Regions from separate parts of the Homo sapiens genome. Here all the other regions are reported to be linked to region 4. Evidence: microRNA targets listed by miRTarBase, many of them from high-throughput screens and not tested one by one. Region 4 holds a microRNA gene; each other region holds the end of a gene's coding sequence.
The links. The annotated mature microRNA hsa-miR-4421 reads ACCUGUCUGUGGAAAGGAGCUA and lies in region 4 at 913-934, shown strand. An mRNA with a match to its seed (bases 2 to 7 or 8) in the 3' UTR can be bound and repressed. Matches are read on the target gene's strand: a 7mer-m8 pairs with bases 2 to 8, a 7mer-A1 pairs with bases 2 to 7 and ends in A, and an 8mer does both.

Region 1 (3,099 bases), not on the chromosome of region 4:
GGGCCTCCATACACTGGGCCACGGTTCCCCAAAGAGGAAGGAGGAAGGTAGGTAGAGAAGAGAGTGAGATGCTTATTGCTGGGGAACGGGCTGGCTGTGGCCCCAAGTCTTTTAAGAGAGAAGGGGGTTGGAACCTCCTCCCTTCACCAAGAAAGAGCATGAAGCAGCGGTGCTGTTAACCACCCCAGTCCCCTGGCACAGCTGCTGCTCTCGGTACCCACCACAGGAAGCCTGTCAGAACTGTCACTGTCCTTGTAGTTTTGGACAGTAAGTAAGCAAGTAAGTGTCAAGTAGCCCTTTATCAGGCAGACTAGGGGAGAGTTCCACAGGTAGCCAAGGCGCAGGGCTATGTGGCACAGTGGTCCTTCCCGTGTCCACATCCACAAGTTCACAGCTGAGGGGCTGAGCTGAGGGCAGGAAGATCCAGGGAGGTGGTAGATGCAAAACGAGACAGAAGCACGAAGCCTGCGTGATGGGACATCAGGCAGCTTTATTTATTTACTCTTAAAACTGTTACAACAGAATCATGGACTGACACAGGTAATGGCTGAGCCATAAGCAAATCGAGAAGTACAGAAATGTCCCACCCCAAACAGCTGCGGAGTACACATCACACAGGGCCTCTGGTCCCGGCCTTCTCAGGTGCTCTGGAGTGGAGGATCCTTTGAGGGAACTCTGACCACTCCTGTTGTCTACCTAGAGAGCACGCCACTTGGGCCACCTACCCCCAACCTTTGGCCAAAGGAGTGAAAGGACCTGGAACCTGTCGTCAACCTCAGCATCCTCATGACCCCAGGACAGACGCAGTGGAGGCAGCAGGTACTCTGGGCCTGTGCTGTTGCCCCTGAGGTGTCTCCTGACTACGCAACCCTGTTTCCTTCCCACTTTCATCCCAGCAGGCCCTTTCTTCCTGCTGACAAAACACTGGCTCCCTCATGTTCTTGGCACAGCAGAAGTGTTCTGCACATGGTCTCTACGGAGGAAAGCTGGTCCCCCTGGCCCAGGCAGCACTTCCTCCGTGAGCCCCTGCAGTTTCCTGGTGTGTGCTTGGGGAGCTAGGGACATGGTGTCAAACCTCCACAAGGCACTGCTACCTCAGAAAGGGGGAGGACCTGTCAGGCCCAGGACAGCCTCCCTGCACATGGAGATCAAATCTAAACTTAGGTCAAGACCCCTACCTTCTCCAGGGATGCCAGGACCAGAGAAGGGCAGAGGTCAGGAGGGGGCATGAGGAGGCCAAGTCTGGGGCAGCCTCCTCAGAGGCAAATCTACACTGCAGCCAATCCCCCTCCAGAGAAGCCCTTGGAATCTCCCAGGCCATTTCACTACAAACTTATGTTTGAATCCTTTATTAGAAACCATGCAAACTTTAATACAAAAAATACAAGTGCAATAAGAATCTTTGTGTCAATACAGTTCCCGGGATTTCTCCTCACTGCAGCCATCCCAAGGCCTAGCTGGGATGCCCTCTGTGGGCCTTGCCTCTCCTCCCTCCCCTCTCCAGTCAGGGCATAAGGGAAGCAGATAGCCTTAGTCTCATGCCTTTTATTTTTAAATTTCCAGACCTGATTTCCTACTATCTGCATGAGGCTCCCTTGGACATGAGGGCTTACATGTCCTAGGGTGTGGGTGCCGGCCTGAAGGAATTCCATCTCCTGGCCCTTTCTTGTTCTCCAGCCCTGGCTTTTTATCCTAGGGCTGACCACCAGATCCCAGGGAATGGGACAGAGATGCCAAAACCAGCCTCTTGGTTAGAAAAGAAAAGCAGCATACACACAACAAAATGGCAAAACCAACCAGTCCACGCTCCAAGGGCCCCTTGTGTGCCTGACCGGCTCACCAGCCACAGCCTCTGCACCCCTCTTCCCTGCCGCACCGCCTCCAGGGCCCTAAGCTGCCCACATCCTCCAGCGGGGGTGGCATAAGGATATCTCCGCCCTGTTCCCTCTAACACTTACTGAGGACTTTCATGTAGACATGGCTTCAACCTGCAGAACTATTTTGCCAGTTTTTAGGTTATTAGAAAAAAATAAAAGGACAAAACAAGAAAAATGTGACAGCAGCTAGGCGGGTATGTTAAGCATGGGGACAGGCAGCACTGACCCCCAACTTGGGGCAGGGCAGCAAGAAGGGCCCGACACCACCTGCATGGGGAGGGGGGGGCGCCCATTTGTGGGACCAGAGGGAGAGGCAGTGGCTTAAGCTCCACGGTCAGCGTCCTGTCACCACTCGGAATCCACCTCCACTCTTCCCTCCAGGTAGATCCAGGGAGAAGGGAGGGCATGTCAGTTTCTTTTGGGTTTGGACCAAAGAACCAAAAAAAGATGAGGATAGAATCTGGTTCTCCTCTCCTAGATCCCAACTTAGCCTCAACCACCCCAACCCCCTCCCAACCTCCTCCACGGAGCAGTGGCGCAGTGATGGGGCAAGACCAAAGCAGGGAGATGGGCCCAGGCTGGGGAGTGAGAGGAGGTGTGGGGCAGGGCTGCTGCTGCCCCGGGCACGCAAAGCAGGAGGGAAGGCGAGCCTAGCGGGCTGCCCAGCACGGCGCCCAAGCGCTCACTGGTCTAGTGGACAGCCCGGGAAAGGGGGCCAAGGACCCGGGAGCCCGAGTTGGGGCCGCCAGGGAAGTGTGGGGGGCGGGAGACAATGTCGGCCCCGTGGTCGGTGCGGGCCCTGGCATTTGCCCGGAACGTCAGCCTGTAGGTCTCAATCTGCAGTGACATGGGAGGAGGGAAGGGAGAGGGGAACAGGGGAGACAAGAGGGGAACACGGGGGAGACGGAAGACGAGACCAGAATGTCATCATTAGATGCCTGGAAAATAAAAGGTTACTTCATTAAAATTTAGGCCACACTCTAGTCAAAAACAAAGGAGTTTCAATTTGCGGCCAGTGGCAGGGCCCCTGGCTGGCCCTTAGGCCGAGCCCAGCCACTTACTTGTCTCCTGGATCTGGCTGTCCAAGGTCTGGGCCTCCCTTTGGTCACCACCCCCTGACAGGGTGGGGTGGCCATTGAGGCCACTGGCTGAAGTGGGGGCGCCAGCTTCAGGCGCTGCCTCAGAGATGGCCGGCTCCTCCCCAGCAGGGGGACCCGGACAC
Region 2 (3,110 bases), not on the chromosome of region 4:
TCTTATCTTGAATTGTAATCTGAATTGTAATCCCCATATGTTGGGGGAAGGATCTTGTGGGAAGTGACTGAATCATGGGGGCAGTTCCCCGTGCTGTTCTTGTGATTGTGAGTTCTCACAAGATCTAATGGTTTTGTGAGGGGCTTTTCCCCGCTTCACCCTGTGCTTCTCATCCTTCTCCTTCCTGGCACCATGTGAAGGACATGTTTGCTTACCCTTCTGCCATGACTGTAAGTTTCCTGAGGCCTCCCCAGCCATGTAAGTCAATTAAACCTCTTTATAACTCACCCAGTCTCAGGTATTTCTTCCTAGCAGTGTGAGAACAGATTAATGAAGCCTCTTTCAGAAAAGAGCATCACCAACGTTACCAGGACAACCAGTCCTCCTTTAAGAATTCAAATGTTTTAAACTCAAGGCAAATATATTTATTTTTATTTTGTCTCATACACACACAGAAAAACAAATAAAAATCTAGCCTGAGATTTAAAACTCACTAAGGAAAAAAAATCACAGCAAAAGCAGTAGGTTAACATCAGGATATTTATATTCAAGGCTCTATGGTATCAAGTTTTTTTTCTCTTTAGAGCCAGGCATGGTGGCATGCACCTGTGGTCCTAGCTACTCACGAGGCTGAGGCAGGAGGTTTGCTTGAGCCCCAGTGCTTGAGGCTGCAGTTAGCCGCGAATGCACTGCTGTACTCCAATCTGGAAAACAGAGCAAGACCCTGTCTCTAAAAAATTTGAGATTTTTTAAAGTCCATATTTTTTTGTTATTTAAACGTGATATTATTCAACATTGATGAACTTGGGTCGTGAGTTCTAAAAGGGATTCAAAATAAAATGGCATTTTCACTTTTTTAAAATTAAGATACTTTTTCATGATCAAAAATATGTTGTGTCTCCCTCCTGACCCTCCTTTTCAGGTAGGTAGCAAACGTTGCGAAATTTAGTTGGCATATGCTTCAGACAACCTTTTACTTAAATCATTATCCTCACTGCTATCTTTTTTTTTGAAGTTGTATACTCCTAAAATGTTTTAAGCACTTAATTTTTCTTTTATATTATTAATTGTTTTCAACCCACTAATAAGTACCATTTTGCTAATTGGGAAATTAATACATATTGTCAAAGAAACAGACTAAACTGTATTTTGAAAATCCTGAAGAATAAAAATTTGTAAAAGGAAAAAAACTAAAGACGAAAACATATTTACATCTCTGACATCTTCCTACTTTAAAAATTACAAAGAAAATAGAAAATAGAGGTGACTTTTAATAACAAAAAAGTCCATTTCTCAATATTAATAAAAAAAAAGCAAAAATACTCATAAACACATAGGATTAAAAGTAATGATTCCAAGAGAAGATAATTTAGAAAAAGGCATTTAATTACAAAATTTTCTTTTAAATAAAAAAGCAATGGCACGAATCACCACAAAATCATTTAAGTGATCATATCCACAGGCTGTTCTTGTAATTATATGCTAAAAATTTATGACTGTTCTCATTAACAGCATTCCCCCCCTTCATTAGAGACATCAAGAGCTTCTGAGAATGTGTAGTTTTTCCTAAAGTACTACTAAAAGTATCATGAACACCGTTTGTGCAGCATTCATTTACATCACCTTTTATTTACTATATTCTAAACTCATAAAATATTTAACATTTCTCTACTTCATTTCTTATTTACAGTACAGAGGCTCATCTCTTGTCACAATATGGTTTGTGCATTAAAATCCCTGGGAATAGTACTTTCAAGAACATTTTAATAAATTGACTCCGATTATTTAAAATAAGAACACAAACAAAAGCTTTTTCACCCAGAAGAATAATTCTTCCAGTAGACTTATTCAGGACTTAAAAAAAAAAATCCCTCTTTAAGTAAAATACATTCTTCAACCATTACTGGATTATACTATCATGCATATTTATAATGCTAATAATGACAACACGTAAAGCCAGCTATGACTTTTAAAATTCCATTTAGAAGAGTACAGTAGACAGAAAGTGCTTTGGCTTTCACTCTCTTGTTATCCATAATCCAATTATTATTTCACATGGGTATATTTTATTTATTCTTAGTATATAAGTATTTAATGGTTCAGTAATAACTGGCAGCTTCTGACAGTCCTATTTTCTTGGTCGCTGATACGGTTCTGTGAACATAAGTCAGATGAACTGAAAAAAAATGCAAATCACTTCCTGTGATACAGCAGGAAAAGGTGGAATGTTATTATTTGAGCAAATGATTCAAAGAGATGAATACTAACATTCTGTCGTGACAGGAATACTGTGAAATTAGGTATGTTTTAATGTGCTGTCTTCACAACTTGCCATACCTGGTATTTGTTATCTTTTTGGTCAAAAAGCAAACCTAACTGGGAAAGGGTAGATGTGAGGAGGTAATAGAGGTGAGAGAGCATATATTACAGTATATATGATTTTAGGAGAAAAGAATGGGAAGAGAAGACATTTCCACATATTAAAAAAAAAAACTATGTCACATCTGGACACATTTCACAGAGCATATGAAAACTGCCCACAAACTAATTAAGCCTCTTTACTCTCACTCCAGAAATTTTTTTTCTAATAATAACATTAATAATAATTAATATAATTCTGGCAGCAGCACAAATCTATGACTTTTTAAGGCTTAAGAGAGTCATTTTTAAATACTTGGGTACAACTGAATAATATGAGTCCTGCCATTTCTTTTATTTACACTCTTGACTCAGCAAGAATTATGACAGAAGTCCACATGGTTATCTGCAGCTTGTTAAGTCTTCTACAATGGCTTTGACTTTATAACCCACTCAGCATTTGGGTTAAGCTGATATAAATCCTTCATGTAAGTGTCATCATCAAGGCAGCGTTCCCCTGTTAAAATAGATGTTGTGTCAGTTTAATACAGCAGGTAGATTGGTATGCAATTTTAAACTTAAGCTTAATTATTTAACTCTTAAGTCTTGGACTTCAAAATACTTATTCTACTTTGGGAGGCCGAGGTGGGCAGATTGGTTGAGATCAGGAGTTTGAGGCCAGCCTGGGCAACATAATGAAACCCCATCTCTACAAAAAATACAAAAATTAGCTAGGCATGGTGGCTTGCACC
Region 3 (3,110 bases), not on the chromosome of region 4:
AGGCAAAATACTTATCCTGATTCTGATGTAGTTCTTCACTTAGGACTAAAAAAAGGCTTAAGTATAATTGCTTAAGTGTATAAGGTGGTGAAACAGGAATCTTGAGCTACGGATTTTAAGTGGTAATAGCTACAGGATTTACTTGAATTGTTTGCTCTTTTAGGTAATTCTCTTGTCTTGTTCTTCCCAGTATTTCCTGGATTTGTTCCTGGCAACCTCGCTGGGTCTGAACTGCTGGCCTGCCCAGTGGCAGAAGACTGCTTGCAACCTTTGGTAGGCTTTTTAGAAATTTATGTGACCGTAATGGCTGCATTTCTGCAACCATAATAAACAATTTGTTTTTGGAAAAAAGCAGTAAAACACCCATCTCCAAAGACATTTAGACTACTTTGCAAGCATTTTGCACACAGGGTGATGATGCATTTTTACCAAACAGTAATAACTTGCTAAATATCCTAATGGCATTTAAATTTTTGCCAGCGTTCCCTCCATCCCCCTTTCTTGGAGCTTGCTGAATTTTTGTGAGTCCAGATTATTTTGTGCTCTTGTTCTCTCTCTTCTAGAAGAGCATTTTCTATTTTCCTCTCATAAAAACCCAGTTAGGCTGGGCACAGTGGCTCACGCCTATAATCCCAACAGTTTTGGAGGCTGAGGTGGGAAGATCACTTGAGGCCAGGAGTTTGAGACCAGCCTAGGCAACACATCAAGATCCTGTCTCTACACACACACACACACACACACACACACACACACACACACACACACACACACACACACACACAAGCCAGGTGAGGTGGCATGTGCCTATAGTCCCGGCTACTCAGGAGGCTGAGGTGCGAGGATTGCTTGAGCCCAGGAATTTGAGGCTGCAGTGAACAATGATCATGCCACTGTACTCCAGCCTGGGCGACAGTGAGACCCTGTCTCTAAAAAGAGAGACAAAAATCCAGTGGATTCTATTTTTGACTGATGTGTTTTTGGGCTAATCACTGATAACTAAACTTTTCTAAGTAACTCACCCACAGCAGTGTCTGTTGCTGTTCTAGCCGATAAAAAGTCACATGAATAGCGTGATCTTATTCAATCCTCATGTTCCAACTAAAGTCCTAAGTATTGTTTCTATTTTACAGATAATGAAAGAGAGGTAGAGCTTCTAAGCAACCAGGCCCGCAAGTAGTTAGTGCTGAGTGGGCGTAGGAACTGAATCCCCTGCCCCTTAGCTGCAAACTTTCTGGTGGTTTCTTGTTTTCAATATGGGGTTATGGTACTGTGTGACATCTCCCTCCCACCTCTGCCATTTAGCAGTAAAATATCCATGTGGAAAAGAAACAAAGTATGCAAGTAAATATGCTAGCTCTAGAGATAAAGAATCTCCCATATAGGTCTTCATCCGTCTTGCTACCAGCAAACTATTCAATTGGCACCGAATTTGCTGAATATCAAAATGGCTTCATTTATGTGCATTATAATATGAAAACATCTTTTCTATAAATACCATTAAGAACCTGGCTTTACTTCCTCTTCTGAGTACATAAAAACCGCTGTTCAAAAATACCACATTAAATGTTTACACAATTTATTTTCCTTAAATAATAATTTGCTACAATCCTGTCACAAATTTAAAAAAATTTAACACGGTATTCACAAAGGCAGAATTCTTTAGGACAATCAAAATGATGGTGTTCTTAGAATAAATTAACATCAGATTGTGTTTATATTCAGATAGTCTGATCCTCTCCTTTGAAATGCAATGGAGACCATTGTGACTGGGGGTGAATGCACACATTTGTTCTTCCATACAGAGACTCATTCTTTATATATACTCAACGGTAATTTGAATCGTTAGGAATCCTGAGAAACACTCACCCCTGGGCACACACATGTACACAGCCCCACGGCCAACCCTCCAGAAGCTGGGTTTCCCATGGTTCAATTACTAGAAGCTCTTTTCTCAGAAGGCCAAACATTCGGAATATTTAGATGACACTGTCCCATCTCCCCTTGGGAAAATCATAAGGTTTCAAGTGGAGGAGCTTGAAGTAGCAGCAATACATGTAGGAGATTCAGTAGTCGGTGATTCCAGTCCTGGGTGCTGAGTGTGCAGTAGGAGGCAAGCAGAGGCAAGAGACACACCTGCTTCTACAACTAAGCCACAAGATGACCAGAACACACTGAGAGTACCAGTTCTCAGAGCCTCAGCTGAAAATTCACCTGAATGCACATTACTAATCCAGGTTAGGCACCAAGAGGGAACCTGAAGAGGGACACAATTCTCAGAAACATGAATATTGGAAGTCGCTGGGAGATGGGACAAAGGGAGGGAGGGCAGAGAGGTGTTGCTCAGCCTTCAGCCTGACCCCCAGTGCCCTGCCATCTAGTACATACGTCAGGGTTTCCTTAGCATCAGGGCGGGTGAATCTGAATTGTTCCAGCTCCACCTAGAAGCACAGAAAGCTCAGCCCTTACAGTCTGACACACAGAAACAAACAAAACATCCAAATGACCCAAGATAACCACACCATCTTGTTGCTGGGAGGACAACAGCTCTGTGGGTGTCCGGTCTCAATTGCTCCAGGATGCCGACAGGGGTGTGTGTGGTGATGTTAGGGAAGAAGGCATTAGGACAGGCCCCAAACTGAGATCCTTTTTGTATCTTTCCATAGAAATACAGGCCTAAATGATGCCATAATTGCATGCTTATCTACACCAGTTCCTATGTACACGATATCTTTTCTATAGAAGTTTAAAGTGCCTGGGTTCAGAGGTGCCCATTCCTTTCCCACAGCTACTGGTTCCTCTTGCTGCTTCCAGAGAGGTCTGTCCTCCTCTTTCAAGGAGGATGCCCTTGGGAAAGAGGAATGAACTTTTTCACAGTTGTCTTAACTAGGATCCAGCATTTGGACTAAACCTTCTTCATACACACGAAGAATCGCTTCACACACAAACTTGTACTGGCTCTGGAAAAGAAAAAAATGCTGTCAAGTCCTGTAGCTCCAGGAAATGCTGCCTACCACACCCTGTACCGGTGGGTCTTTTGCAGCATTTGTAAATATTCCCTGAGCGCCAACTCTGGGCCACAGGCCAGGTACACCTGTGAAGCCCTAGTTCCT
Region 4 (3,110 bases):
AGTGATGGCAGCAGTGGCCTGTCTGGAGTAGCCACTGTGAAGATGCCGGCTTCAGCAGGGGAAGCACAACTGGGGCTGCACACTCTGCTGAGCCCACGGGTGCCGGGAACAGGTGGGAGCCCCACCCCCTAACAAGTCAGTGGAGCAGGAGCCACATGCTCCCAGGCACAGCTGCAGCTTCTCAGCTGTAGCCACAGACCCAGGCATCCCTGAGGTCTCAGGGGCCCCGGAAGCCCTTTGTTCCCGTAGGCTTGAAAGTGCCTGCTCCCACTGCCTGGCCTCTCCCTGCTCCTGGCCCCCACTCTGGGGCAGAGCAAAGTTGTGGCAGAGCCCAGGCACTGTTGTGACCCAGCTGGGTACCCAAGCACTCAGGGCAGTGCTGACATGCCAGCCCCCTGCTGTCTCAGGCCATCCAGACTTTGGGAACTGAAGAGCACAAGAGGGAGACCAAGGGGTTGCTCAGGGTGGCTCAGTGTGGGCCTGTAGGCAAACCTCAGCATGAACAGCCTGGGCGGCATGGACAACATGTTGATGGTGACAGGAGGCAGACAGGCTCCTGGGCAGAAAGGGGCAGGTTCCCAGTGAAACGCAACCTTCAAGCCATGGATGGCATGAAGCCTGGGGGCTGGGCTGTCAGCTCCAGGTGGAGTCTGCGGCCTGGAGTGAGAACTTATGGTGCTTTTTCCAGGCCCGCCCATGGCCACCCATGGGCCAATCAGAACACACTTCTTCCTTTCTGAGCCCATAAAAACTATGTTACCTAGCTAGACTCATACAGATGTCAGGACTACCAGCTGCAGGAAGGAGCTACCCACTTCAGGTCTCCTCTACTTGTCAGTATGACCTGCCTGTGGAAAAGAGCTACTCACTCTGGGTCTCCTTTCTGCTGAGAGTTGAACACTTGTTGGGACAACCTGTCTGTGGAAAGGAGCTACCTACTCTGGGTTTCCTCTCCCCTGAGAGCTGGACACTCATCTGGACAACCTGCCTGCAGCTAGGAGCTACCTTCTCTGGGTCTCTTCTCTGCTGAGGGCTGCACTCGTCAGGACTACCTGCCTGCAGAAAGGAGCTATCCACTCCAGGTGTCCTTTCTTCTGAGAGCTGGACACTTGTTGGGATGACCTGCCTGCAGGTAGGAGCTGCCCACTCTGGTCTCCTCTCTGCTGAGGGATGCACTCGTCAGGACTAACTGCCTATGGAAAGGAGCTACCCACTCCAGGTCTCCTCTCCCCAGAGAGCTGGACACTTGTCAGGATGACCTGCCTGTGAAATGGAGCTACCCAATCTGGGGCTCCTCTCTACTGAGGGCTGAACTAGTTGGGATGACCTGCCTGTGGAAAGGAGCTACCAACTCCAGGTCTCCCAAGAGCTGTTCTGTCACTCTTTTGCTCAAGAAAGTTCCTTTCTGCCTTGCTCACCCTCCAGTTTTCTGCATACCTCATTCTTCCTGGACACAGGACAAAAATTCAGGACCTGTTGAATGGTGGGACTGAAAGTGCTATAACACAAACAGAGCTAAAACACCTGCCTCCACCCCACTCGTCACACTGCAGGCAATGAGAAGGAGAGAAGAGCTGCAGCCCTTCAGGGAGCTCAGATGCACAGGCTCCCCCAGCCAGGGCTGTGACACCCTCTTTGGGGCTCTGTGGTTTCTAGTGTCTTGGAGCTTCCAAGTGCCACCATGTTCCCCTTGTCCAGATGTGAGTGCCCAGAGCAGAAGCCACTTATAGTGCATCTGATCCAGCCACAGGCTTGAACAGAGCCAGCACCTGTGGTGGCACCTGGAACTGCCCACCCCACCACAGCAGCCAATGCTTGGCTGTGTGCAGCAGCCAGACCCCATGCTTGCTTACTTGTGCACCCCTCTCCTCTCCATGCCTGGATCATTCTTTGAAGGTGTGGGAGCCAGGCCAGTAGCATGAGCTGAGTGCAGCCTGCCAGGCCGAGTGGGTGGAACAAGCCCAGCAGGCTTGAGCAAAACTCTGGCAAAGGCACCACTGGCCACAGAGGTTTCCAACTGGAAAAGTGACACCTGGAGGATGCCATGACACAAGGATTCTGACTGATGGGTATGCAGCCCTTGGTACAACACTGAATATAAATGGTAAGAGTGAACGTCCTTGTCTTATTCCTGATCTTAGGTGGTACTATGGTTTGAATATGATTTGTTTGGCCCTGCCAAGTCTCATGTTGAAATCTGATCCCCAGTGTTAAAGATGGGGCCTGGTAGGAGTGTTTGGGTTGTGGGGGTGGATCCTTCATGAATAGCTCTGTACCATTCTCACGAGAGTGAGTTCTTACTTTTAGTTCCCACAAGAACTGGTTGTTGAAAAAAGCCTGGTACCTCCTCTAGTCTCTCTCTTGCTTCCTCTCTCACCATATGATATGCATATACCAGCTCCTCTTCACTTTCTGCCATAAGTGGAATCAGCCTGGAGCCTTCACTAGAAGCAGATGCCAATGCCATGATTCTTGTGCAGCCTGCAGAACCGTGAGACAAATGAACCTCTTTTCTTCATGAATTACCCAGCCTCAGGTATGCCTTTATATTAATAGTAACACAGACTAAGATGGGATAATTTTTTCAAGCCTTTCACCACAAAGTGACATTAGCAGTGTGTTTTCATAGATGCCCTTTATCAGGCTGAGGAAGTTTCCTTCTATTCCAGGTTTCTTGTTTGTTTTTTTAATCATTAAAGTGTGTTGAATTTTCTCAAGTGCTTTTTCATATCTATGACATGACTGTTTGGCTTTTGTCCATTATTCTATTAATATGATATATGATAATGTATGCTGAGCCTGTATTCATGGAATAAATTCCACTTTGTCATGGTCCATAAATATTTTTATATGGAGCTGGAATCATTCTGATAGTCTATATTCATAACAATAGTTTATATTCATAAAGTTACTGGAAAGAATTTGGCTGTTAATCTTATCAAGAATACCTCAGAGATGATGAGCTGCTTCTGTCTTTCTGCTTTCAATATACTCTCTGTGCCCTTGGTTTTCCAGTTGGTTATGTTGTGTATAGGTGTGCATCTCTTTGCATTTATACTACAGTATAACCTTGAACAACATGAGGGGTTGGGGTGCCGACCCCACTAGTC

Region 1: the mRNA of MAP4 is a reported target of hsa-miR-4421. Seed matches in the 3' UTR shown: 7mer-A1 at 2,218-2,224.
Region 2: the mRNA of ARHGAP18 is a reported target of hsa-miR-4421. Seed matches in the 3' UTR shown: 7mer-m8 at 724-730.
Region 3: miRTarBase lists PTPN3 as a target of hsa-miR-4421. Seed matches in the 3' UTR shown: 7mer-A1 at 1,607-1,613, 7mer-m8 at 920-926 and 8mer at 710-717.

Annotation. Positions count from the first base shown.
Region 1 is chr3:47,850,225-47,853,323 of GRCh38, forward strand. It overlaps MAP4 (microtubule associated protein 4), which reads right to left. Exons shown (of 21, transcript NM_001385682.1): 20 at 2,939-3,099; 21 at 471-2,714. The coding sequence ends at 2,710. Among named protein-coding and RNA genes, the nearest start is that of MIR1226, 2.2 kb to the left of the region's middle. RefSeq lists an enhancer at 2,035-2,552.
Region 2 is chr6:129,575,730-129,578,839 of GRCh38, forward strand. ARHGAP18 (Rho GTPase activating protein 18) reads right to left here. Exons shown (of 15, transcript NM_033515.3): 15 at 403-2,875. The coding sequence ends at 2,784. Among named protein-coding and RNA genes, the nearest start is that of ARHGAP18, 130 kb to the right of the region's middle.
Region 3 is chr9:109,376,677-109,379,786 of GRCh38, forward strand. PTPN3 (protein tyrosine phosphatase non-receptor type 3) reads right to left here. Exons shown (of 26, transcript NM_002829.4): 26 at 1-2,957. The coding sequence ends at 2,880. Among named protein-coding and RNA genes, the nearest start is that of EPB41L4B, 57 kb to the left of the region's middle.
Region 4 is chr1:51,058,967-51,062,076 of GRCh38, forward strand. MIR4421 (microRNA 4421) reads left to right here and starts at 871; the gene lies at 871-939. It overlaps MIR6500 (microRNA 6500), which reads left to right and starts at 1,052; the gene lies at 1,052-1,137.